Linked DNA regions of Homo sapiens: all the other regions are linked to region 2. The links come from fine-mapping of genetic effects on gene expression. A gene starts in region 2. Each other region holds a variant in brackets. All regions are shown on one strand. Distances are between the middles of the regions.

Evidence for each region. PIP is the estimated chance that this variant, and not a neighbour inherited with it, causes the effect.
Region 1: its variant is the best candidate, but not a certain one, in a credible set for the expression of PTPRE in thyroid (GTEx, PIP 0.52).
Region 3: its variant is the best candidate, but not a certain one, in a credible set for the expression of PTPRE in whole blood (TOPMed, PIP 0.51).
Region 4: its variant is the best candidate, but not a certain one, in a credible set for the expression of PTPRE in whole blood (INTERVAL, PIP 0.78).
Region 5: its variant is the best candidate, but not a certain one, in a credible set for the expression of PTPRE in whole blood (TOPMed, PIP 0.63).

What each region holds. Positions count from the first base shown.
Region 1 is chr10:128,091,312-128,096,416 of GRCh38, forward strand. No RefSeq gene overlaps it. Among named protein-coding and RNA genes, the nearest start is that of AS-PTPRE, 31 kb to the left of the region's middle. RefSeq lists enhancers at 76-577, 578-1,077. The variant C/T (reference allele first, on the strand shown) is at 2,585.
Region 2 is chr10:127,905,041-127,910,145 of GRCh38, forward strand. It overlaps PTPRE (protein tyrosine phosphatase receptor type E), which reads left to right and starts at 2,063. Exons shown (of 21, transcript NM_006504.6): 1 at 2,063-2,269. RefSeq lists a silencer at 1,907-2,026.
Region 3 is chr10:128,072,880-128,077,984 of GRCh38, forward strand. It overlaps PTPRE (protein tyrosine phosphatase receptor type E), which reads left to right. Exons shown (of 21, transcript NM_006504.6): 17 at 458-592; 18 at 3,724-3,849; 19 at 4,738-4,904. Among named protein-coding and RNA genes, the nearest start is that of AS-PTPRE, 13 kb to the left of the region's middle. RefSeq lists an enhancer at 5,014-5,105. The variant A/G (reference allele first, on the strand shown) is at 2,103.
Region 4 is chr10:128,046,494-128,051,598 of GRCh38, forward strand. PTPRE (protein tyrosine phosphatase receptor type E) reads left to right here. Exons shown (of 21, transcript NM_006504.6): 4 at 897-996; 5 at 1,271-1,344; 6 at 3,037-3,173. Among named protein-coding and RNA genes, the nearest start is that of AS-PTPRE, 13 kb to the right of the region's middle. RefSeq lists enhancers at 876-945, 1,246-1,295. The variant T/A (reference allele first, on the strand shown) is at 2,386.
Region 5 is chr10:128,117,332-128,122,436 of GRCh38, forward strand. It overlaps MKI67 (marker of proliferation Ki-67), which reads right to left. Exons shown (of 15, transcript NM_002417.5): 5 at 1,922-1,988. Among named protein-coding and RNA genes, the nearest start is that of MKI67, 6.5 kb to the right of the region's middle. The variant T/C (reference allele first, on the strand shown) is at 1,965.

The sequences.
Region 1 (5,105 bases), 190 kb after region 2:
ACCTCCGCCTCCCGGGTTCAAGCGATTCTCCTGCCTCAGCCTCCTGAGTAGCCGGGACTACAGGCACCAGCCACCACACCCAGCTAATTTTCGTATTTTTAGTAGAGACAGGGTTTCACCATGTTGGCCAGGATGGTCTCGATCTCTTGACCTCATGATCCACCTGCCTCGGCCTCCCAAAGTGCTGGGATTACAGGCGTGAGCCACCATGCCCGGCCTAAATGAATGATTTTAAACCATATCCCTTTTCAAGTCACAGCAGTGCAACGCCTTAAAATCCAAGGCCCGTTTCCCTCTTGCTTTGATTGGTGGGCACAACCCTTAGTTCTTAGGAACCCAGGGGAACAGAGGTTGGGAAGAGAACTGCCGTGAGAAACCCAAATTGTTTAGGTGGCATCTGGGGTCAGCTAGACATTGACGAGGCAGCTCTGTGATGCTGGCTGGGCTTATTCACATTCACGTCTGGGGATTGGCTGGTAGTTGGGTAACCCCAACTAGCCTGGGCTGGGGGGCCGGGGTAGCTCAGCGGTCTTCCATATGGCTGTCGTCTTCCAACAGGCTCGTGTGGGTGAAGGCAGGCACAGACGGTGCACACACATGGCCCATTGCTTCCCCGACCAACCTGGAATCCAAAGGAAGAGGCAGGCGAGCAAAGCGGGCTGTACAGAGGAGGGGGCAGAGGTGCTTCTGAGAGGGGTATCGGACGGTGCTCAGGGAGCCTCAGGGGCCACCTAGCGTTGTGTTACCTCCAAAGCAGTGCTTTCTCGGAGTAACAGAGGGCGGGCCCAGAGCCAAATAGCTGGATTCTGAAACACAAAGAGCTACCACGAGACTAGTTTTTATTACACTAAAAATTCTTCATTAAGTTTTTATCATTGCCAACCTAAATCTATATAAACATATAATATATTTTATGTATATATTATTTTTACTTAAATATGTATGTATATATTTATAACATTTTATATACATATTTGTGTATAAATTTTCATAGATAATATTTATATATTTATATAGAACTTAGGTTGCCAATGATGAAAACCTAGTGAATAATATTTAGTATATTTATATATTTTATATAGTTATGAATATATAATATACTTAAGTTATATACATTACATTAAATATATTTAATTTATATTATACACAATATATTAGATTATATCTATAGTTATCATATTTATATATAAATACATACGCTTATATATAAATATAGGTAACTTTTCCCCTAAGTTGCTCCTATAGTTGTTTTTGGCTCTAGGGGACATGGAAGCAAGCAGGCAGATGAGGGGCCCAGGAATAAGTGACTCACTTCAGCACAAGCTGCATCTCCCGAGCCAGGGTGGAAATTTAGGAATTTGCTGATACACAGTCATGCCCCTCCTCCCTCCCAACATCAAAATTGACAGTGCTGCCTGGCCTGACCCGCCTCCCCTTGCTCATATCAGCCTGGCCTGGATCTGAGACCCCTGCCCAAGAGGGGCCTTGGATATAATTGCACTTCTCCTTTTCCAGACCCCACACAAGAAATAAGAAAAGCCTGGAGTCGTGTCCAGTCCTGACTGCTCCTTTCCCAGAGTTCTAGGCCTCTCGAAGGCTGAGGCCACGCTGGGATAAGAGGAAGACGGCACCGCTTGGAGACCTTCTGAGAATGGGGGCCAGGCTACACAATCCACCCGAGTTTTCTTCTTTTGTCCTCACAACCCTACGAGGCAAGAAATTGCCATCTTCACTCTCCCAGCTAGGGAAACTGAGGCTCAGAAAGGCCAAGCAATGGGCCCAAGTCATGCAGCGAGCAAGGGACAGGGCTGGGATTGGAAGCCAGGCCTCTCAGCTTCCAACGTCCTGGGGCTGGGAGCCGGTGGGGGTTCCAGGGCCCGGGAAGACCCCAAAGCCCAAAGTGAAATGCACCCTCTGCTCATGACCCGTTATATTGCAAGGGCTGCTAATTTCAATGTGATATGTCCTAGGAGGCATATATGTTAAATCACTCATTTCTCTAGATCAGGGATATGCAAACCAAGGTCCTCAGTCAAAATGGGCCCACAGCCTGGTTTTTGTTGTTGTTGTTGTTTTCTTGCTTGTTTTGTTTTGTTTTGTTTTGCTTAAGATGGAATCTCACTCTGTCACCCAGGCTGGAGTACAGTGGGCTGGATCTCAGCTGACTGCACCCTCCGCCTCCCTGGTTCAAGCAATTCTCCTGCCTCAGTCTTCTGAGTAGCTGGGATTTCAGGGGCCCACCACCACACCTGGCTAATTTTTGTATTTTTAGTAGAAACTGGGTTTCGCCATGTTGACCAGGCTGGTCTCGAACTCCTGGCCTCAAGTGATCCACCCGCCTCAGCCTCCCAAAGTGCTGGGATTACAGGCGTGAGCCACCGTGCCCAGCCCCACAGCCTGTTTTTATTAGCCATTTTTTGGACATGCCTGTTTGCTTGCGTGTTGCCTACAGCCGCTTCTGTTCTTTAACAGCAGAGGTGAGTCAGCATAACAGACAGTATGGCCCACGAAGCCGCCATATTTACTGCCTGGTCCTTGACAGAAAAAGTTTGCTAATTGCTGACCTGGATTAAAATCCACAGAA[C/T]CTTTTCTATGCAGGGATGTGCTTCCCTATGTCCTGGCCATGCCTGGTCCCAGCACCACCTGTTTTAGCCAGACCTGTGTCTGGGCCAAGCTCAGCAAAGTTCTGCGATCTGATGTCATTTAAAGACACTGTTGACTGGGCATGGTGGCTCACGCCTGTAATCTCAACACTTTGGGAGGCCAAGGTGGCTGGATCACCTGAGGTCTGGAGTTTGAGACCAGCCTGGCCAACATGGTGAAACCCTGTCTCTCCTAAAAAAAAAATTACAAATATTAGCCAGGTATGTGTGGTGCATGCCTGTAATCCCAGCTCCTCAGAGGCTGAGGCAGGAGAATCTCTTGAACCTTGAAGGCAGAGGTTGCAGTGAGCCAAGATTGTGCCACTACACTCCAACCTGTGCAACAGAGTGAGACCGTCTCAAAAAAAAAAAAATAAAAGACAGTGTTAATATGGTATCAGATTGTGGCTGCCACATCACACATATTCTTTTCTCCTGCAGAGGCCATATTCAGTTTGGATAACCCTGAAATTTGGTTACTCGACTCTTAGTTAAATAATGTTTCTTTGCATTGTTGGTGGTTTGGGTAGTTTTCAATACGTGGGCTCGATGAAGACATAGACATATTATTCAGGATTTTTATTTTTCTTTTTTGAGACAGGGTCTTGCTCTGTTGACCAAGCTGGAGTGCAGTGATACAATCATAGCTCACTGCAGCCTTGAACTCCTGAGCTCAAGCAGTCCTCCCACATCAGCCTCCCAAGTAGCTGGGACTACAGGTATGTGCCACAATGCCCGCTAATTTTTTCTTTTCTTTTTTCTTTTTTTTTTTTTTTTGTAGAGATGGGGTCTCGCTATGTTGCCCAGGCTGATCTTGAACTCCTGGCCTCAAGCGATCCTCCAGCCTTGGCCTCCCAATGTGCTGGGATTACAGGTGTGAGCCACTGCCCCTGGTTATTCAGGCCTGTTACGTTCCAGATTCTTCCTTCACTTCCATAGAGAAATCCCTAGTGATAAAGAATTTATGAGCCAAGGGAAATATCTTGGAGTTTTAGGCATCTAATAAATATATTCATCTTCTGATGATGATGATAATTAGCATGTATTGATGCTTACCAAGCTCTGGGTAAAATGCTAAGTGTTTTACACATATTGTCTCATTTAATCTTCTCAACAATGCTATGTGCTCAGGTACTGAACAGCCTCATTTTACAGATGGGAAACTAGCAAAGTTGAAAGACTGTCCACGTTCACACAGCAGCAAATTAGACAAGCTGGAATTTGCACCTGTGCATTTGACTCCGAAGTCTGAACTCTCTCTAGGAATTTACACTCTGCAAGGGTGTGGAACACATACCAGACATCACATAAACTTTACAAATGATAAAGGAGCACCTGCCCTAACCCCAAGCAGACAGACAACAAGGGCCAGGATGGATTTTAGAACACTCTGACCTGTGAGAGAGGCGGACAGGCCTGCACCAGCTGTATTTCTGTAGTGACATACACAGGTGTATCACGCAGGGAGCCTGTCCAGTCACGGAGCCCTGGGACTGTACCATCAACACAGTTTTTGTTTGTTTGTTCTTCAGGTGACATCGAGAGCTCCCCCTGGGAGGTGGGGTTGGGGATGCTCCTTAGGAACCTCACTGGAAAGATGAGTCAAGCAGGTATCCAAGTCCAATTACCCGGCTCAGGGCTTGACATCACAGATGTGGGACTTGCCTGAGATGGGGCTGATGAGCAGGAAGCTGATTGGGGCCCTTGCAGGGCAACACACAACAAACCAATCAAACCTCCTTCCTGAAATCACTGTGCGCGCTGTGGGGGTGGCAGCGGGGGAGGGGGGGCGTGGCTTCCTGCCAATACATCATGGGTATTATTTGTTCCCTCATGAAGAGCAATAGCAATGAAATCCACATTTCCAAATTATGGAGTGCTGTGTGCCTACGTGGCACTCAATGCCAGTAATACCAGGATGGGGGTTTGGTGACTGTGTCCTGGAGATGCCTTGGGGGTCTGGGAGCACCTGGACAGCACAGAAATCAGTTTCTCCAGCTGTAACCAGAGTGCCAGGAGATTCCTGCAGTTCATCTAGAGGACTTTTCCAGGAAACCCAGCAAACAGTAGGATCTCAGCCACACGAAATCATTTAGTTAAGTAGCTACAGTTTACTTTATGGAGTCGCCGTTTGCCATGTTAATTCTTGATGACAGCCCAGGATGTGGGCTGCAGACTGAACCCACTTCCTTCACCAGACTGACCACCGAGCACGGCTCTCCCTCCCTCCTCAGCCTCTCAAGATGGTAGATGCACCCACCTGCAAACTTTTCTCTCCGACAGAAAGGCCTCTTCTTCAGGACTAACTGACCTACCGCAGGCTACTGCCCCTGGAACTTGCCAGCAAATTCACTCCCGGGATCCATGTCAAATCAGGGTTGCCAGAGGAAAGTCAGGGCATGTATTTTCATCTGCTGACTTGGGGCAGCCCTGGGTCAAATCCCCATCCCTCAACTCAGCACC
Region 2 (5,105 bases):
AAAGCCTGGTGACGTCATGTGCTACCTGGCCCCACCTCAACCTGGGCTGTTCCTTGGAGGTGCACTCAGGAGGGAGCCACCCGCCCTGCTGGGCTCCGAGGTGACCAGGCTGTCTGCTGCTGCTGGCTGGGGCCCATCCTCCTCTGCTCTGACAGCCCAGACGCCTTCACTGAGCACCTCCTGGCTACTGACGTTGCTTTAGGAGCTTGAGTCTGAGAAGCCATGGAGATCAACAGAGCCTAGGCTGCTGGAGCTTACAGCCCTGGGGGTAGGGGAAGAGGGCACGACAGACACAAAAGGAGCCAATAAACCCACAAATAATTCCAAACTGTGATGGAGGATGTGGAAGAGAGTGGCAGAAGAGATGGATGCAGGGCGATCTTCCAGAAGCCACCAGTAAGAAGGAACCAGGTGCACTGGTTGGAGGAGTCCCAGGCAGGAAGGAGCTTGGCTCTGGCACTGAGAGAAAGGAGCCGTGATTGGAGCCCAGCGGGCAGGGGTGAGAGGCTCAGAGCAGCCAGGGAAGTCAGGCAGAGCCTCGTGGGAGTTTGGGTTTTAATATTCCTGGAGGCTTTTAAGCAGGGGGCTAGCAGGACCCGGTTTACACTTTGTGAGGTGCCTGGGACCAAGTGTGAAGAATGGATCATCTGGGAGAGTGGGTCAGAAGCTGGGGAGCCACTGCAGGTTTTGGAGGGGCGCAGGCAGTGAGATGAAAGGGCAAGATGCATGGAGAAGCCAGTGGGAAGTGGACTTGGGCCCTCTGGGAGGTGGACTTGAGGTGGGACACGGAGGCAGGGACAGGGACGACTGCAGAGAAACTAAGTAAGAGCAAGAGGCAGGTCTGAGACAGCAGGAGACAGCCAGGAGGAGCTGAGCTTGGAGGAGAGGGCCCCAGAGTGGTGCTGCTTAGAGTCATTCCCATACGGATGGTGTTTAAAGCTTTGGGGCTAGACAAGGCCCCCAGGGACAGAAATGGGCAGGGCAGGGCAGGGAGGTGGAGCTCAAGTTCTCCACTGGTTTCGCAGCTCTCCGGCCCCTGTGGAGGGGAAGTCCCACTCTGGGCAAATCACGTGGGGGTGGCCTCTGCCAGGAGGCACCCATTGCTCTGCAGCCTTTGGGGTCCGTAGCTCTGTCTAAACAGGCCTTAAGTATGCTAAGAGTCGTCGGCTGGCAATCGGTGCAACGTGGGGTAACACACCGTAAGTGCCACTTTCTCCCCATCCATTCATTCATTCATAAGCCTAATGAGCTGGGTCCCTACCACAGAATGCAGCTTCCCTCATGAGGGCTGGGCCGTGGCCCCATCCAGAGGGCACGGCACAAAGGTTCAGAACCAACATGCCACCAGTGTCTTTTCTGCTCCTTCCAGGGAACTGCCTTTTCTCTGAAAGCTCCCTAAATAGCTTGAGTGAAATTCCCTGGAAGAAGTCGGCTAGACAGCAGGCCCAGTGCCTGGCTCTGTCGCTCTTCTTTCTCTTTGTGCGTTTTTAACTTTGACAGATACTGCCTTCGGGACAAGCGAGCCCTCTTCTACATCCCCCAGACAGGCGCCTTATCCCCTCCTCTTTCCAGAGGAGGCCACCAGGCCCAGCGACCTCACAGCTCTCCCAGCTTCCTCGCACCAGAAGCGCACGGGGTGCCCTGCGTGTCCCACACCTGCTGCAAGACCAGGGCGAGTCCCTAGTCAGGCCACTTCCTGGTGCACAGGGATAGGGCAGGGAGAGGCAGGGCCTTGCCTTTGCTCTCCACCAGGTGTGAGTGCCTGCCATACCCTGACCCTCTGTCTACGCACCTGGGTCCCGGCGGAGTGGCTGGACCAGGCCTCCCCGGAAGGGGCACCAGCCTTGAGTAAACGGATGCCCACAGTGTCTGGGTGCTCCCAGGGCAGGGCCGCAGGGCCTCAGGGCCATACCCGCCTCGCAGGTGGGGCGGGCGCCCTGGATGCGCTCCCCGCGCCGGGCACCAGGCGTCGCCCCCGCTCCTCGCAGCGCCCAGGCCCCCGCCCCCGCCGCGGAGCCACAGCCGGAGCTGGAGCCGAGGCGGCGGCGGGACGCGGCCGGCCGGACAAATTTCCTGCTAGGCTGCGGACAGCGGGCGGCAGGAGCCGGCGCGAGCGGCTTCAGGAACCCACGGCCTCTGCGCGTCCCCGCGACCCTTCTTCGCGCCCGGCGAAGACAGCCGGGCGCCCCGGAGGGCGGCGGGCAGGCGCCCGGGAGATGCGGAGCCTCCGCTGCAGCGCGATCTGCGCGACCAGACCGGCCCCCCCGAGGTGAGCGCGCGTGCGGACAGGGACCCTGCGCCCCTGTGGGGAACTGTGCACCCCGGGAGGCCCAAGCAGGCCGGGGCGCTGCCTCGGCCGCTGCCGCGGGAGGGAGGGGCCGCTCCGGGGCTCAGAGTCCGGACCCCGGCCCCGCCGCCCCCGCGGCGCGCCCAGTACCAGCGGCTGGGGCCCGTACGACCCCCGACCCCGGCCTGTGGCGCGTCCCCTCACCCGGAGTCCCCAGCCCAACTTGGCGACCACAGTGGCAGTGCTCACGCTCCCTCTCGGTAAACAGGAGGAGGGCGCGCGTGTCTGCGGGTGGCTACAGTGCGCGGGGGCCGGCGGCAGGGCGGCGTACGTGAAAGCGGGCGACACAGAGAGGGGGTGCAGGCCGCGCGTGGGGGGCTGCGCCCACTCGAGGCTGGAGGCTGGAGCCTTTGAAGAAAGTGGCTCGAGTTGTGCCAACTCTGGGAGGGGCCGGCGCTCTGCCAGGATGCTGCCCCGCAGCCGGGCGGGCGCCCGCGCCTTCCCAGGGAGGCAGGTGGAGCGGGATGCAGCAGCCGCCGGGGGTCGGAGATGCGGCAGGGAGACCCTGGCAGGTGGTCCAGGCTGGACTGCCGCGATTTGCAGGGTCGACGACCTCACAGGGCTCCTGAGCACAGATGCGAGCGCGGTGCCAATTCTGAGAGCTCCCGGGACCATCTGGGGAAGGCCGGGCAACCCACAGGATGGGGAGGCAGAGCCAAGCCGGATGGAGACCGCGCTGGACCTGACCTAAATTCCTTCCAGGCATGCAAACCTTTCCAGAAAGATTAGGCAATTATACTTGCAGAATTATGATATTGGTTTGTCTTGAGTCGTGACCATTCCATCAGAGTTTCAATCCAGGAAACTCAAAGAAAGAATACAGCTCTCTGCTTGTATTTTAGAGTGAATGAGCGTATAGGTGAGTTGAATGAACACCAGCAAAGAGTGATCACGTGATACAGAAATTACTGTGTCCATGTCCAGTCAGCTCTGCATTTGGCCCCAGGTACCCCTTGACCCAGGGCGTCTGGAGGTCTTTGTGTCCCAAAGATGGATGAAGTTCTGCCTCTGCACACTAACGACTCTTGTCCATTTAAACTGTGTGTATGTGGGTGGGGAGGGGGGGTGTGGAGGGTCGTTTCCAAAACTGGGATAATGGCCAGAGGAGGGCATGAAATGGTGGGGGCCAGTGGCTGGGGCAAGCGTCTGACCACCACGGTCACTCAGCCAGCATGGTATGGGCAGAGCTCTGTGGTGTGAACAGGGTTAGGGTCTGTACTTTCCAAGCACAGGCTCTTGGCATTTGGGGAGCAAAAGGTCAGAGGCGAGGTGGAGCAGGCCCAAGAGGTGGGGGCTGCGCTGTCAGTGAGAGAGGCCTGACGTACCACCCAGCCCTTCCCAGACAAGGCTCTGCCCCTGAATCTGACCTTGGGGGCCAAGATTTTTGTTCATTGATGTTGGTGATGCCTGTGAGTCACCACCGCCCCCTCCCTGCCCCAACAGACCGTTCCCATGTGGACAAGAGCTAGGAGCTAGATTTGTCTCTGTAAAAGGTCAGGTCACTGGATGTGTCCAGATGGCTTGGGACTTAGTCACACACTCCCTCATCAGTTCCAGTCAAACCAGTTGAGGGAAGTCGATGAGGGTGTTATTGTCTTTACGTGTGATGCTTCTTGGAGGCCCTGTGTGGACACAAAGTGAGGACAATGCGGAAAGTCACACAGAGGCCACCTCTCATTTCTGTGGGGGACAGCTGGCAGAGAGAGATGCGCTCCCTGTGTCAGCACCGCCACCTCCACGGAAGCCTGGAGGAGGTCCTGAAGCACTGTGCCCTGATGGGAGCCCCCTCTTCTCCAGGGATGCGTGTGTGCAAACCATTGCCCCTGAGAGTAGATGCGGCTGTGTGTGTACATCCTTGCCCCTGAGAAGAGAGGTGGCTGTGTGTGCAAATCTTGCCCCCAAACCCCAAGAGAAGATGCATTCACAGTGGGGGTGATGGTAGATGCATCAGTTTCAACTGGTGAAAGTATGCTTCTCCCAGCTGTGCCTCAGTGGGTCCACTGTGCTCCATCTGCACCACCATTAGCCTAGTCTAAGGTGCACCGCTGATCAATATTCCCTCCCTGAAGGCCAGAGGTGTGTTTCTAGGCCCGGCCACTCCTCTGTAGTTCTCCTCCGCAGCTGCCCACTTGACATTTCTCCCTGGGATATCAAATGCCCCTTGACTCAATGCGTCAAAATCAAACTTGTGATCTCCCCTCCCCTTCCAGTACTTTCCCAGTGTTGTCTTTATCCATCCAATTCCACCAGCCTCCATGTTGCTTCTGAAATGTATGCCAGACTATAGTTTCTGTGAAGAGAGGGCAATACTGTATCTCCAGTGCCCAGCCATGTGCCTACCAGTGGAGCCTTGAGGACTACTGTCCATGGATAAACAACTTGGAAGTGAGACCTTCCCGAAGCGCATGTGCTGATGGAGCAAGTGTGTGTCTGTTGCGTGGATGTTGTATGGTTGATAGGCAGCCACACATTTTTGCCGATGTGGATGGGCATGGTCCATCCAGGGCTCATGTGGCCAGCCCTTCTGGAGATGCTGGACTCACCTGCTAAAATGACTGCTGGCTTGGACCAGAGACACCCCAAGTGACCTCCCAGGGAGGCAGGCTTGGGAGCAGGGAGGGAACAGGATCGAAGCTGCCCCGTATTCCCTTGCTAGACAAGTCTTTTTCATTTATAACATTTGAGTCACCCTCACAGAAGTTCTGTTGCCAAAGCAGGAATGAATGTATCCATTAGGGTAAAGACTGGCCTTCTTAAT
Region 3 (5,105 bases), 170 kb after region 2:
CACACAGAGGCTGTCTTCATGCACAGTGGAGTTCGCAGAAGAAGGGCAAAAGGGGGAATGGCAGCCAAGTGTGTGTTCATATTGCCATTTGCAGATGAGAAAATTGTACCAGAATCCGGTGGGCTCCATGCTGATCTAGCTGAAACACACAGAAACATGTTAGAATCTAAGCCACCAGGTGCTGTTCAGGTGGCCACAGGCAACTACCAGTTCATAATACCCATTTGTTGATGACCTCAGGGGCTGACGGTGGCCGTTATGGTTTCAGATAAGCGAGCTTCTTGACCTGCTTGTCAGGTGTGTGCCTGAGTGCTCGTGCCAACTGGGGTCTGGTGCAGACCATGGAGGATGAGAGAGTTTTCCTCATTAGGCCTTAGGCTGTCCTAAACTTAGGGAGCAGGTAATGGAGCCAGGATGGAAGGAAGTCAGACTCTAACCTCTGCGCCTCCATTTGAAGGGCTACCGACAGAAGGACTATTTCATCGCCACCCAGGGGCCACTGGCACACACGGTTGAGGACTTCTGGAGGATGATCTGGGAATGGAAATCCCACACTATCGTGATGCTGACGGAGGTGCAGGAGAGAGAGCAGGTGAGGAGTGCCGCCCAGCCCGGTCCCTCCAGGGCAGCCTGTGCACCTGAGGCACTGTCCCCGTTCATTACAAATGTCCCACCTGCCATCACTGCAAACACATGGGTGAGACCAAGCCAGGACCACTAGGGAAGGAGAGAGATTGGAAATGAAAAAGGTTTCATTTCACCCTTTCCCTTTTTGGGAGTGAGGTTTAACCATAGCTACCCGCTGCCCTTTATCCTTAGCCTACATGTTATTTAACCTGCCCTGAAATTCTGCCATTTGGTATTGGCCAAGATCATAACCTGTTGAAGAAAAAGACATTTATTGACTTTTTTCAAGACATGAAGACAACAGTAAACCCAAGGTTTACCAACAATGTACATCTATCTGGGTTCTCCCCCAAGACATAACTACTGCTGTGTATTTGTGTTTTTATTTCTTTGCTCTAAAAAGGAACAGCTTTATTGTGATATAATTCACCTATAATTCATGCAATTCATCTTTTTAAAGGGTACAATTCAGTGAATTGGAGTATATTCACAGAGTTGTGCAACCACCACCACTATCTAATCTGTGATCATTTTCATCAACCCAAAAGGAAACCTCGTACCATTAACAGTCACTCCCCATTCCTTCCTTCCCCTAACCCCTGGCAACCACTAATCTGCTTCCTGACTATGGGTTTGTCTATTCTGGACATTATTATAAATGGAATCATACAGTATGTGGTCTTCCGTGATTGGGTTCTTTCACTTAGCATCATGCTTTCAAGGTTCATCTATGTTGTAGCATGAATCAGTAAATCATTCTTTTTTACTGGCAAATAGTATTTGCTTGTGTGGATATACTACACTCTGCATATCCATTCATCAGTTGATGGACATTTAGGTTGTTTCCACTTTGGAGCTATTATAAATAGTGCTGCTTTGCTTGGTGCGGTTGCTCACACCTGTAATCCCAGCCCTTTGGGAGTCCAAGGCGGGCAGATCACCTGAGGTCAGGAGTTCGCGGCCAGCCTGGCCAACATGGCAAAACCCCGCTTCTACTAAAAATACAAAAATTAGCTGGGCATGGTGGCGGGAACCTGCAATCCCAGCTACTTGGGAGGCTGAGGCAGGGAGAATCGCTTGAACCTGGGAGGCAGAGGTTGCATTGAGCTGAGATCGCGCCATTGCACTCCAGCCTGGGGGACAGAACAAGACTCTGTCTCAAAAAAAAAAAAAAAGTTTCTTGAACATTCAGGTAGTAGTTTTTGTATGGACATGCTTTTTCACTTCCCTTGGGTATACGCCTAGGAGTGTATATACTAGGAGCGGAATTGCTAGGTCACGTCATAACTCTATGTCATAAACTTACTGTTTAACATTTTTGAGGACCTGCCAGACTGTTTTCCTCAGTAGCTGCCCCATTTTACATTCCTACCAGCAATATATAAGGTTCTAATTTCTCCACATCCTCACCAACATTGTCATTGTCTTTTTGATTAAAGCCATCCTAGTGGATATGTTCTTTGCTTTTTTAAAAC[A/G]TCTTTTAAAATCACATCTGTTTATGCCTACGTAGACTGTTGTTTAGTTTTACTTGTGTTTGAACTTTATAGAAAGAGCATCATTACAGCATGTTGTCTTCTGAGACTTGCTTCTTCCACTCAAAATTGTGCTTTTGATATTCTATGTTGATGCTTATGCTGTGGTTCATTCGTCATCATTATTTCATTATATTCCACTGCACAAACTATATCCTGCATTAGCTCAGGTATTCCTTCTCCTGTCATGGGCACTTGAGTTGGTTTCATTTCGTTGTTTTACAAACAGTGCTACCTGTACATTCTTTTTTTAAAACTTTAAGTTCTGGAGACAAGTGCAGAATGTATAGTTTTGTTACATAGGTATACATGTGCATGGTAGTTTGCTGCACCTGTCAACCCATCATCTAGGTTTTAAGCCCTGTATGCATTAGCTATTTGTCCTAATGCTCTCCCTCCCCTCACCCTCCACCCCCCAACTGGCCCCAGTGTGTGTTGTTCCCCTCCCTGTGTCCTTGTGTTCTCCCTACCTGTATATTCTTGTACATGTCTTATGCTGCACTAGGACTAAGATGTATCAAAGAGCCAAAATGCTTCATTGAAGAGTATGTGAAAGTTTGAATTTGCAAGATAATTCCTAATTGCTTTCCAAAGTGGACATCAACAATGTATAAGAGATATCATTCATCTACATACCTAGTATGGTATTCTCAAGGTGTCCTAATTATTGTTAATTGAAAATTAACAAAATATTGTTCATTGTATAATTATTGTATAAATACTATCTTTTTGTGGCTCTGATTTGCATCATTCTGATTCCAAGGTCAACCCCATCACTTCATATATTTGTGGATGACATATTTCCTCTTGTGTCAAATGCCTGTTCCTGCCTTTCACTGATTTTTCTATTGTTTGTCCTTTCTTATTGATTTATAGGAGCTCTTTACGTAATCTTGATACTAATTCTTTATTGGTTTTATGTATTGCAAACATCTTATTGCAATCTGTGGCGTGTCTTTTCACTCTGTTAATGATGTTTGTTGATGAAGAGAAGTGAATGTTACTGTAATCCAATGTTTCAAATTGTTGCATCGTGATTGGTTAGCTGTTTGGGCTCTTGTCTAGTAATCCTTGTGTACCTCAAAGTGAAAAGATATTTCTTCTTCCAAGAGTTTCACAGTTTTGTTTTTTACCTTAAACCTTACTCCATCTGGGTGTATTTTTATTAAGGTTCAAGGCCATGACACGTGGAAGTGCAGGGTGTACACTGCCCAGTTCTAGGAAGAGCTGGGGGCACTCACATCAACCCTGGTAGGGAATGAGTCAGGGATCCAATTTCATTTTCCCCAGGTAGAAAACCAATTTTTCCAGCCCCACATATTGAAGAATCTCTCCTTTCTGCCATATGTTAAGGTTTCATATATATATGTGTCTGTTTCTAGACTCTGTTCTGTTCCCTGGGTCAACAAGCATTAACAGGCATTTATATTCATATTCATATGTTTTTTTTTTTGGTCAGATGAAATACATTAACTGGTTTGAGAACAATTCTGTGTTATAAACTCAAAATCGCCAGCAGCAAATTATTTATTACAAGACTTAAATTTTTATTTTATCCCCTAAGGATAAATGCTACCAGTATTGGCCAACCGAGGGCTCAGTTACTCATGGAGAAATAACGATTGAGATAAAGAATGATACCCTTTCAGAAGCCATCAGTATACGAGACTTTCTGGTCACTCTCAATCAGGTATTGTTGAAGTAGCTCTTTAAACGCTTGTGAATTTAGTGAACCACGCCCTCCCTCTGGGTTCTGCTTGTCATTGAACCAGAATGTGGCCCTGCACCTGTCCTGCTCCTTCACCTAGTCCCATTGGCTATGAATGGCCAATGGGTTTCAGAGACAGTGGCAGGCCTCCTGTACAATTCCCATCTCCCTAGCTGCCTACCTCCCATTTATCTCTCAGGAGAATTACATTAGCCATTAGCTGTAAGAGGAAGAACAAAGGGGACTAATGAAGCCACAGGGGCCTCTCTGGGGCCCTCCTCCAGGTGCCTTCTCAGAGCCCCCCAACTGTCCCCATTTCCACTGGGTCCTTGGTTCTGCTCATCCTCTCTCCTTGGCAAAGAATGAGAACTCGGGGTCAGCTGTAGGTAGGATGACTCACTTGTACACAGGTCTTGATGCTGAGCTCCAAACAGTCAGTATCACGTAATGCACCTGCCACTGTCTCCTCCATGCCAGCCACAGAGCCACCCTGGCCACCAGACTCAGATGCTGCTCATTTGAGCTCTGAAGGGAAATGCAGGGCCCTGGTTTCTTGAGAAAGTGATTCCCTTCTCTCCAGCAGAGCTGCCAAGGATCCCGTAGGGGTTGGGCAGTCCTCACAGGGATCCAGGGGATGTCCTCTGGACGGCTCGCTCCCCCTTGCAGAAGGAAGCACAGCCAGCCACCTGCCTTCTTCTTTAGGACAAGCAGGTTTCAGCCTTCTCCTTCAGGCTGCCTCGGTGGGGATGTTGGCAGCACAGAAGGCTCAGGGAGGGCTCCCAGCCTTGGCCAATCCCTGAGAGGGCAGATGGGGCTGGGGCCTGTTCCCCGGCAGGCAGGCGACGCTGAGACCCCCTCTCCTCCCTGCAGCCCCAGGCCCGCCAGGAGGAGCAGGTCCGAGTAGTGCGCCAGTTTCACTTCCACGGCTGGCCTGAGATCGGGATTCCCGCCGAGGGCAAAGGCATGATTGACCTCATCGCAGCCGTGCAGAAGCAGCAGCAGCAGACAGGCAACCACCCCATCACCGTGCACTGCAGGTGAGCCCCCAGCCCGAAGCCCTCCAGGTGGGGTGGACACAGGCTGCACCCCCCCAGTACCCGCAGCTGTGGGCAGCAGAGCCTGGTCGCTGCCCCTGGCCATGGTATTCCCTAGAGTCTCCTCTCTACCTCTCCTTACACACATGCACACACGACTTCACTTAAGTACATACATGTCATCGTATCATACATAAGATGCAT
Region 4 (5,105 bases), 140 kb after region 2:
GAGGTTTGCGCTTTGAGGCATCCAGGGCCCCTCTGGGTCCACAAGAGAGGAGTCCAGTGGGCTTCTTGGAGGTGGGGGCCTTTGAGATTGTCCTCGAGGAGTGGGAACATTTTGGTGATGAGGGGGCTGTGTGGCCAGCGGGGGAGGAGCAGGAACAAAGTGCGACGTTGGGAGAGTGGGTGGGGTCCAAAGGTGGCAGCGAGGCCACCAGTGTCCCTTGGAATTTGGGCTGATGAGCCAGGGGTGGGTCCTGAGCAGCAACAAAGCCACTTAGCTGGGCCTGGGGCTGTGGGTCTCTTTCTGGGTGAGGAAGGTCAACCTGTCAGGTACAAAGGACACAGTAAGAGGCCGGTGGTGGCTGGGCACTCGGCCTCTGACAGGTGGAATCGGGACCTGGAGGCTCTGAAAGGTGGGGTCACAGTGCGCCAGGGCCACAGGCCTCTGCCCAGCCCCAGGGCCAGGCCGCCTCCCTGTGCCTGAGCTCCTGCCCAAGCCCAAGGGGCCCTAAGAGCTGAGCTACGCCGAGTCAGCCTCCCGCGCTGTCCTAGGACCCTGCAGTGGACACCGGCCCCTTCACCCTTCTCCAGCTTCTTAGCAGGAGAGCCAGGCAGCCAGGCCGTGTGGGGGTCTGGGGAACTCACCCCTGTCATGCCTGCCCCAGGGATTTTGGACAAGTCACCTCACCCACTCCTCAGTCCCGGATTCTTTCTCTGAGTCAACAGCAACAACTAAAGTCGCTTCTCTGTTACCTCGTGGGGCCTTTTCAGGATGATGGATCCACTTTACAAAATATAGTTTGGGGTTCTGGTGTCCAGGAAGAAGGGCTTATGGAGGGAGACTCTTTTGCAAACTGTGAAGTGAGGTCAGGGGTTAGGGTCTTTCTGCTTCTCCTGCAGGCCCTCCGGACCCGGGCGCCTCCCAGCCGCTGCTGGCCTGGCTGCTACTGCCGCTGCTGCTCCTCCTCCTCGTGCTCCTTCTCGCCGCCTACTTCTTCAGGTAGGAGTGTCCCGGGGCACTGACTTGCCCCAACCAGCTCAGAGGAGGAAATGAGCCTTCTGATGCTGTGGGCGTGGGCTGTGCAGCAGAGGGCAGCTGAGAGGCTGGGTGGCTGGGCCTGGGAGACACACAGAGGCCAGGCCTTAGCGCGGCTCAGCCATGAGCAACAGGAGTAGCTTTTCCCGGCTCACCTGGTGGGTATCACTGTGCCGAGCGCTGTTGGCTCTCGGGGAACCTAGAAGTGTGGAAACCTAACGCATCCTGTGTCTCTAAGGTTCAGGAAGCAGAGGAAAGCTGTGGTCAGCACCAGCGACAAGAAGATGCCCAACGGAATCTTGGAGGAGCAAGGTACAGAAGCTGCTCTCTGGCTGGGGCTTGGGGGAAAATGTGTTCTTTTTTAGCAGACACTGAGGTGCTTTCTGCCTTTAACGTTCAAAGTAAATTTTGAGGTGTGCCTTGCCACTTTCATCTCACTCTACCTGGTATGATGCTGTCATTTAGAATTTCACTATTTCAAAACTTTAAGGATCATTTTTCTCTCGGGTGTGACATGGACGTTTGAGACATTTTTGTTTGTGGCTTTTTTTAGAGAGACTGTTCATATCCTGTCGTTTTCACAGGGTGTTGACATGTAACACTTTTCAGTGAGGCCTTACAATCATTCTCAGATAAGACTGTCTGGCTCAGAAACTATTCAGCTGGGTTTGTACTGCTTTAGGATCCAGCTGGAAAAAGAGACTCGCTCTCCTGAAGTGCTTCATGTTTACAGAGCATCAGAGTCAGCTGGGAGCATTTCCAACTTTTCCATCCGAAGTACAGTTTCGAACTTGTTGTCGCTACTTACAAAGGAACATTGTTTTTCTCTCCATACATAGAGATGAGATGACCGAGAAACGTGTGTAAGGCAGAGGCCACAAAAATATTGCTTCACACCCCAGTGACTACAACTTCCTGGAGTCAGCTTCCTACCTAACTGTAGTCAGTTCTATGGTTTGGGGGAACACACGTGCCGTCAGACTAAAATAGACTCTTAAAACGGACCCTTAGATCATTAAAAGAATATCACCAACAAGGACCCAGCTGAAATGTAGCCTCCCAGCGCTCGCGGGACCCGAGACCTGGTTAGACGATAATGTGGCACCAGGTGCTGTCTTCCTGCCCTCGTTCCAGTCCCCGGTTCCCTGCCCTGAATGTTTCAATAGCAGGAACGGAAGGGAGGAGGGTGCGGCTAGTGAGTAGCAGGGAAGCTCAGCATCACTCATTCTGATCCCATCTGTCACTTGGAGGAATGAGTCTTGGGTGAAGTTTTTGGCTGGGCTTCAGAATGGCTCTGCAGGTGGGGACAGGCCCTTTTGCAAGTGTGACAGCTGGGTTATCATGTTGACCTTG[T/A]CAATATCAGCTCATTCTCCAGGAAGAGAAAGACATGTCCATAACTGTTCTTGCCTCTCACTCCGAACTTGGGGAAGGAATGTGTCCAAGAACTCCCTTATAACGCGTACTTCTCCTTCTCAATGCCCCTTGTCACCCTCCCCAGACAAGGGTGGTTTTCCCTTGGAGCTTATGGGGTTTGAGGAACCAGGAATATTTGTTATGAAGAAGAAAAGGCTGAGAGAGAACGTTCTGAGTTTGCTCCCAGAAGCCGTAATTACTCTTTCTTATTTCCAAACCTGGAAAGCTGAGCTGGAGAGTGAGGCCGTCTTGAATCCTTTTTGGAAGGAGCAGGGGCTGGAGGGAAGGAGAGGTGGGAGGGTGGGTGGATGAGTGGCCTCGGGAGGGGGACAGGCTGTCTCCAATGGGGGAGAGCAGGTGACACTGGGCAGAGGGACGCCCGTCACTTGTAAATGATGTGGATGCCTCACAGGAGGCGAGTGTTTGGATACAGCTGCTCGGGACCCGGCTTAGCCCAGCTATGCGATTTGAGAGAACTGTTCCAGCTCCAGCCTGGTCATTTCTTCAGGAATGTCGTTGGTCAGCTTGGTTACTCAGTCGCCTATCCAGGAATGTGGCTAAATGGCCCCCATGTTTCTTTTGATCCCACAGAGCAGCAAAGGGTGATGCTGCTCAGCAGGTCACCCTCAGGGCCCAAGAAGTATTTTCCCATCCCCGTGGAGCACCTGGAGGAGGAGATCCGTATCAGATCCGCCGACGACTGCAAGCAGTTTCGGGAGGAGTTCAACGTGAGTGTGGGGAGGGCTCTCTGCTGGGTGCCCTGTGGTGGAGACCTGTGAAATCCAGTGTTAGAGTTCAGGATGAATTATCCCAAAGACTCAGAACCCTTGCATCAGTTATGACACTGTCCCATGAATGGGCGTGTGAGGAAACCTGGTGTGTGGTGCAGTGCCCTTTGCCAATGCTTATTTCCTCATTTATAAGATGAGACAGTTGAGTTAGAGGTTTGTGAAGCCTCCTTACACCTCCCCACTCTGAGTGTCAAGTTCTAAAATCAACTGTGGCAGAAACACTGTTATCTCGATAACACAGAAGGCTAGGACCTGAGCGCGGCACGGTATGACAATATCATGGGGAAAGTAACAGAGCCCCAAACCATCCTTTCATGGCTTCTGAGAGCTGGAGCACCTAATCAGAGTAGGCGATGTTCCTCTTCTGAACCACCATCTCGGCATTAATGAAGCAGCTGTGAGCTGCCTTGAGAGAACACTAGCTATATCTGCTTGTGTATCAACATGGGTGGGTGGGTGGGTGGATGGATGGATAAGTGGGAGGGCAGAGGGATGGATGGATGGATGGGTGGATGGATGGATGGATGGATGATGGATGGATGAGTGGGAGGGCAGATGGATGGATGAATGAATGCATGGATGGATGGATGAGTGGGAGGGCGGATGGATGGATGGATGGATGGATGGATGGATGGATGGATGGATGGAGTGGGAGGGCATATGGATGGATGAGTGGGAGGGCAGATGGATGGATGGATGGATGGGTGGATGGATGATGGATGGATGAGTGGGAGGGCAGATGGATGGATGGATGGATGGATGGGCAGATAGAGAAGTAGACAAACAGATATGAGGAAGTATTGTCTTGGATTTTGCTATTCAGTATTTATCCTTGGTCGTGTTTTGAATTTTATGCATCTTCACCTTCTTGCATGTGGCTGTGCTAAGTGTTGATCTTAAAGAGGATAGATTTTCAGCAGGATTGCTAACTGGTCCTGGCTATGCCTGTTGCGTGCTGGCCCTGGCACATCAGTTAATTTCCTTGAAGCTGTCTTCCACCACCTAGGAAGGGGCAATGGAGATGGGCCTGTCTTAATTACCTTGAAGTTGGAATGGGAGGCTCAGACAATGGATTTTGTAAACAACAGTGTTGTGCAGTTGTTATATCTGAAGATGGCATGAATTCTGCTGCAGAAATGAGACTTTACCCAGAAGCAACGTGTGAAGGCATGGGAAGGTGGTGGCCCATGTAAACTGTACATTGCTTGTTTTTTGGTGCAAGCCTCCTCTGCCTTTATCTTACTTCCTTTTTATTGTTTCCAAATGTGTCCCCTTTTTTGGAGAAATTAGGTCATATTGAAAGACAGCTTGAAGCACTATTGTGTTGCAATCTCTCAGCCTGACAACAGACCTTAATTCTCATTTTCAAAATAACTATCCAAGTTTTCAGCTAGCAGATCCCCTCCCCCACCCTTCTCATCCCATTTCCCCTTGCACTTTTGTTTCCCCAAGTGACAGGGGCTGGGCTTGCTGATGGGGGTGTCTGAGTCAGAACCAGCTCAAAAGAGGGGGCCACTCCCAGGGAGGGAGTCCAGGAATAGGGTGGGGCAGGTGAGACACTCACCCCAGGCACATAATTTAAGACAGCACCAAAAGCTCAGCAGTGGGATAAATTATATTTTAACATAACACTTAAAATATCAAAATTATCAGCACCACAGGAAAGGTAACAAATACAATATCAAAATGAATACAGGCAGTCCCTGGTGAAGAAAATAACACGACCATAAAGGAAGACAGGCTTGGGCCGACTGATTTTCCCTGTTGCCCTGGGCCCTGATACATACGGCTTGTCACCACACAGCTACTCATCCTGCCATTAGTTAAAAGTTTCATATTTTGGTCATCATAGATTTTGTGCCTTGATTT
Region 5 (5,105 bases), 210 kb after region 2:
TGGATCTGAGAGCCTAGATTCACCCTAGGTAAATTCATGGTACAGGCACACATGGTATATTCACAGATTCTGCAACCTCACAGCCTGGGAGCAGGCGCAGCGCCCCCACCTGGCTCCCCAGAGACAGCGCCCTAACTTTCCTTCATATGGAATTATTTCCGGAAGGGTGGAAGAACTAAAGAATAACATATATATATAACTTTTATAAAAGTCTGATGCCCCAAAGGAAGAAAAGCTTATCATCTGGATTATTAAGAAAATATCTAAAAAATATTAACAAAGGCAAAGAATCTAACTTCCTTAATCAATTTTAGGTTTCTTGATACGTAACACCTTGCTTCTAAAACTATCTATGTGAGGGATGGTTTTTTATTTCCAATCTGAAGTGGAACAAGAATCTTATGACTAAACAATATAAATGAACCACTAATAAAATTATGAATATGTAAAGTATATAATCTCACTTTTGTTGTACGATTACATTCAATAGCCACAAAATTGCTGTCGAATTGCTGTCATATTTACTACATACTCCATTTCAGTACTCACTATATCACAGACCAGTAACAGAACAAACAGTTCCTAGACTGCTGAGTGGCACATATCTAACCCACAGTTCAACTGGCTTTTTGGTTTATTTACTCCCATAGACTAGCAAGTTGCCTGGTGGCTACAGTGTGGGATGCCTCAGAAACTGGCTTCCAGCACGGGAACTGATGACCATCAGATTCAACATTAAGGCTGCTCCTCTAGGGAAGAAGGCAGTACTTAAATGGCAGAAATGGACTGGGCATGGTGGCTCAAGCCTGTAATCCCAGCACTTTGGGAGGCCCAGGTGGGTGGATCACGAGGTTAGGAGTTCAAGACCAGCCTGGTCAATATGGTGAAACCCTGTCTCTACTAAAAATACAAAAATTAGCCAGGCATGGTGGTGTGCACCTGTAGTCCCAGCTACTCGGGAGGCTGAGGCAGGAGAATTGCTTGAACCCAGGAGGCGGAGGTTGCAGTGAGCCAAGATCGCACCACTGCACTCCAGCCTGGGTGACGGAGTGAGACTCCGTCTCAGAAAAAAAAAAAAAAAAAAAGGCAGAAATGTTGAAATTCAAGAGTACCTACTGCTAATTTCAGGTGCACCTAAGATAACTCTCCTAAGCCAAGATATTCCAAGGAGCTCATCTGAAACTAGCTTTAGGAGCACTCTAAAATGTAGGAAAAATATGAATTCTCAGGGCTCATCCTAAGCCTAAATCCCACTAAATTTCCAAGCACATGCCGACAACTGTGTTTTAATAAGCTGTACAACTAAAATACCTCTTCCACACTGATATACTCAAACTATCTAAATTGCGAAGCACGTGTCGACAATTATGTTTTCATAAGCTGTACAATTGGAATACCTGTTCCACACTGATACACTCAAACTATAGGATTCTCTCACAAGACAAAGCACAGGATCCCTTTTCCTGTTTCATGGGTCGTCTATCTATCAAAATAGAGAAGCATCTTTGGCACTCATGATTTTCATAATGTGATTATTTCAGACACATAAAGACGGATGAGTACAATGACTGGGCGACAAAATGAGCCACCAGATAATGCAATTCCCAAATGTTAGCTCTACGTGTTGGGGTTATCCTAATCATGGGTTTGCAAAAAGCTCGCAACATGCTCTAATAGACTTTTTGGCTAAAAGTGTAAGACCAACTTAGTGCTCTGATTTTGAACAATAAAGAGGAAATATCATTTTAGATTATTTTAATACGTCTAAGTTCAACTCGTTTTTATACTTTAGTTACATTTTCCTACTATAACAGTAACCACCCTCTTTGTAACTGATTTCAAGTAAGAAATCATTAAAGCATACATAAATGATTTCATATCATCGAAACGAATCAGCCCAAACTTGGATATTTTCTATCACCTGTTCACGTATTTTTCTTGGAAATTCAGTTGACTTCCTTCCA[T/C]TCTGAAGACTTTCATTTTCATACCTGCAGTTTATAGAACGACAAAGATCCTGATTAAAAATTTATACCCTGGGGCGGAAGTCTCCATATCCACTTAATGTCCAAGGATCAACGAACAAACTTTGGGTTTAGTTCAAGACATCACCTTATACAAAGAAATAAATTTAGAGTTAGAAAAGTGCTTTTACACTAAAAACTAGGATTAGTTGCATCGAGTTTGTTTTGAAATACCACTGTCAGAGGCTGGGGACCCAGATTAACTTCTGATCACTGACGAACAGCCCAGGTATGATTTGACAATATTACCAAGCACCTTCTATGACATAAGCTAATGCACATGAGAGCAAAGTCAAGTTTCTTCTAGTTTAAGTCCATGGAAATCATCGGATGGCTTGGAAGGCCAGCCAGGAAGCCTGTAGGTAACTGAATCTTTCTCACGTTGTGAAGTTACATACTTCAGGGTAAATAAAAAGCTACACTTACACTACAGGGTAACTACAAACCTATATTTTAGAACACTATGATCACTTCAGTTTCCCACACATTCAGTCTGTATCTGAACAAGACAGGTACATCTTAAGAAGATCACCTTTAGCAAGATACATAATTGTCCTGGCAAACCTCAGTGATCAAGTCATAGAAGCAATCCTTTATTTTGCATAATGAAAACTTTTGGCCTCAGTGAAATGACCTGATTTGAATTTATAGGCAACCTAAGTAAGATCTGAAGCAGTCACACATCTGATATTATTTCTCATGGTAGAGAGTTTGGAATCAAGTCTCTCTTTCTAAGATTCACTTTCAAATCTTTGTTGGATGTCTTTAATCATCTGAATTTATCTCAATTTGGATAATATCTTGTTTTGAAAAATAGTTCAGCCCTCCAATAAACATCAAAAGCTTCCTACCTATAGGCCGGGCGCAGTGGCTCATGCCTGTAATCTCAGCATTTTGGGAGGCTGAAGCAGGTGGATCACTTGAGACCAAGAGTTCAAGACCAGCCTGGCCATCATGGTGAAACGCCGTCTCTACTAAAAATTGCAAAAATTAGCCGGGTGTTGTGGCGCGTGCCTGTAATCCCAGCTACTTGGTAGGCTGAGGCATGAGAATCACTTGAACCCGGGAGGCGGAGGTTGCAGTGAGCCAAGATCACACCACTGCACTCCAGCCTGGGTGACAGAGCAAGACTCTGTCTCAAAAACAAACAAACAAACAAACAAAAAGAAAAAGAAAAAAAGAAAAACTTCCTACATAGAAGTCTGTATTCAATAAAAATACTCTTTAAAAATGAAGGCAAACTTCCCAGAAGCACAGTAAAAGAAATGACTAGGGAATTTAAGTGGTGCATTAAAAAACAGCTAATACAAATGAAGACAATAACAGAGATTCATTTAGCAGAATGGATTTTTAAATGACCCAACTAATACGTTGTCTACAAGAGACGCAATTTTGATTCAAAGACACAATCTTTTAAAATAAAAGCATGGGAAAAGATATACCATGCAAACAGCAAGCAGAGGGGAACTGGAGTACTGTACTAACATGAGACAAAATCATCTCAGACAAAAGTTATTCATAGAGAAAAAGGACATTTTATATAAGGATCAATCCAGCAAGAAGATATTCCAGTTAAACACAAGAGGTCACCTGACAACAGGTTCCAAGAGACAACTTAAACCATAACAATTATGAAAAGTTAAAATTAAGGGGGTGGAAAAGTTATACTACACAAGCACTCATCAAAAGGAAATTAGTTTAACCATACTCATCATCCAAAGGAAACATTAAGCAGAAAAGAAAGCACTACTAAAAACAGAGGACATCTCTAAATGACAGAGTTCCATGCACCAAGACATCATTCTAAGTTTGTACACCATAGTACAGCCTCAAAATATACAAAGCAAAAACTGATAGAGATAAAAACAAATCAATCAATCAATCCTCAGTAGGTGATTTGAACATATCTCTTAGAATAATAGTAGGGGAAAATTTACTAAGATTATAGATTTGAATCTAACGGGAGTGTGTGTATCTGTATATGTGTATATATATTACATATTATATATGTATATATTATATATTATATAATATAAATATATTGTATATATATTGTATATGTATTATATATACCATATAGTATATACTGTATACAGTATATACTATATGGTATATATAATATATATTATTATATTATATATTACTATATAACATATAGTATATACTATATAATATTATATATTATATTATAATTATATATGATTATATATAATATATTATAATTATATATTATATAAGTGATATATATAATAATTATATATTACATATATATGAGACACTGTAGAATACAGTTTTCAATTACACAAGGCAGATTAGTAAGATAATTAGCCATATCTGCTCATAAAGCAAACCTTGACACATTTCAAAGACTAGACATTAGTCAAATGTCCATCAAGAATGAATGAATTCTGTATAGTTATGTATATTATTGTATATATTAAACATTTTTTTTTCAGTGAAATACTTATGCCATGAGAAGGAACAAACTACAGAGATGTCCAACATGCTATGAATCTCACACACAGAAAAGCACAAGCCAGGCACAAATGTATACATTCTTGTATCACTGTTAAGGACTTTTATAAGAACAGACAAAACTATCGTGTTCAGAGATCCATGCTTAGGTAGTGAAACTCGAGACGTTTATGATATCCTAAAAGCCAAAACGGTGGTTTACTTGCTGAGGGAATGAAGTAGTGATTAGACAACAGCATTTTTAAAAAGCTTCTGGAAATGTTCTATATGAGCTGAGGATGTATTAGTCTGCTAGGGCCACCATAATAAAGTCCCACAGACTGAATGCCTTGAAAAACAGACATGCCCTTCTCAGTGCTGGAGGCTGGAAGTCCAAGAGCAAGGTGTCAGCTGGATTGGATTTCTCTGTGCCTCTCTCCTTGACTTGAAGATGGCTGCCTTCTTGCTGCCTCTTCTCATGGGCTTTCCTCTGTGCACGTGTTCCCTAATCTCCACTTATAATGACACCAATCATCAGATTAGGGCCCATACTAATAGCTCAAAAAGCCTTCATTGCCTTTTTAAATGCCCTCTTTCCAAATACAGTTACATCCTAAGGTACGAGGGGTT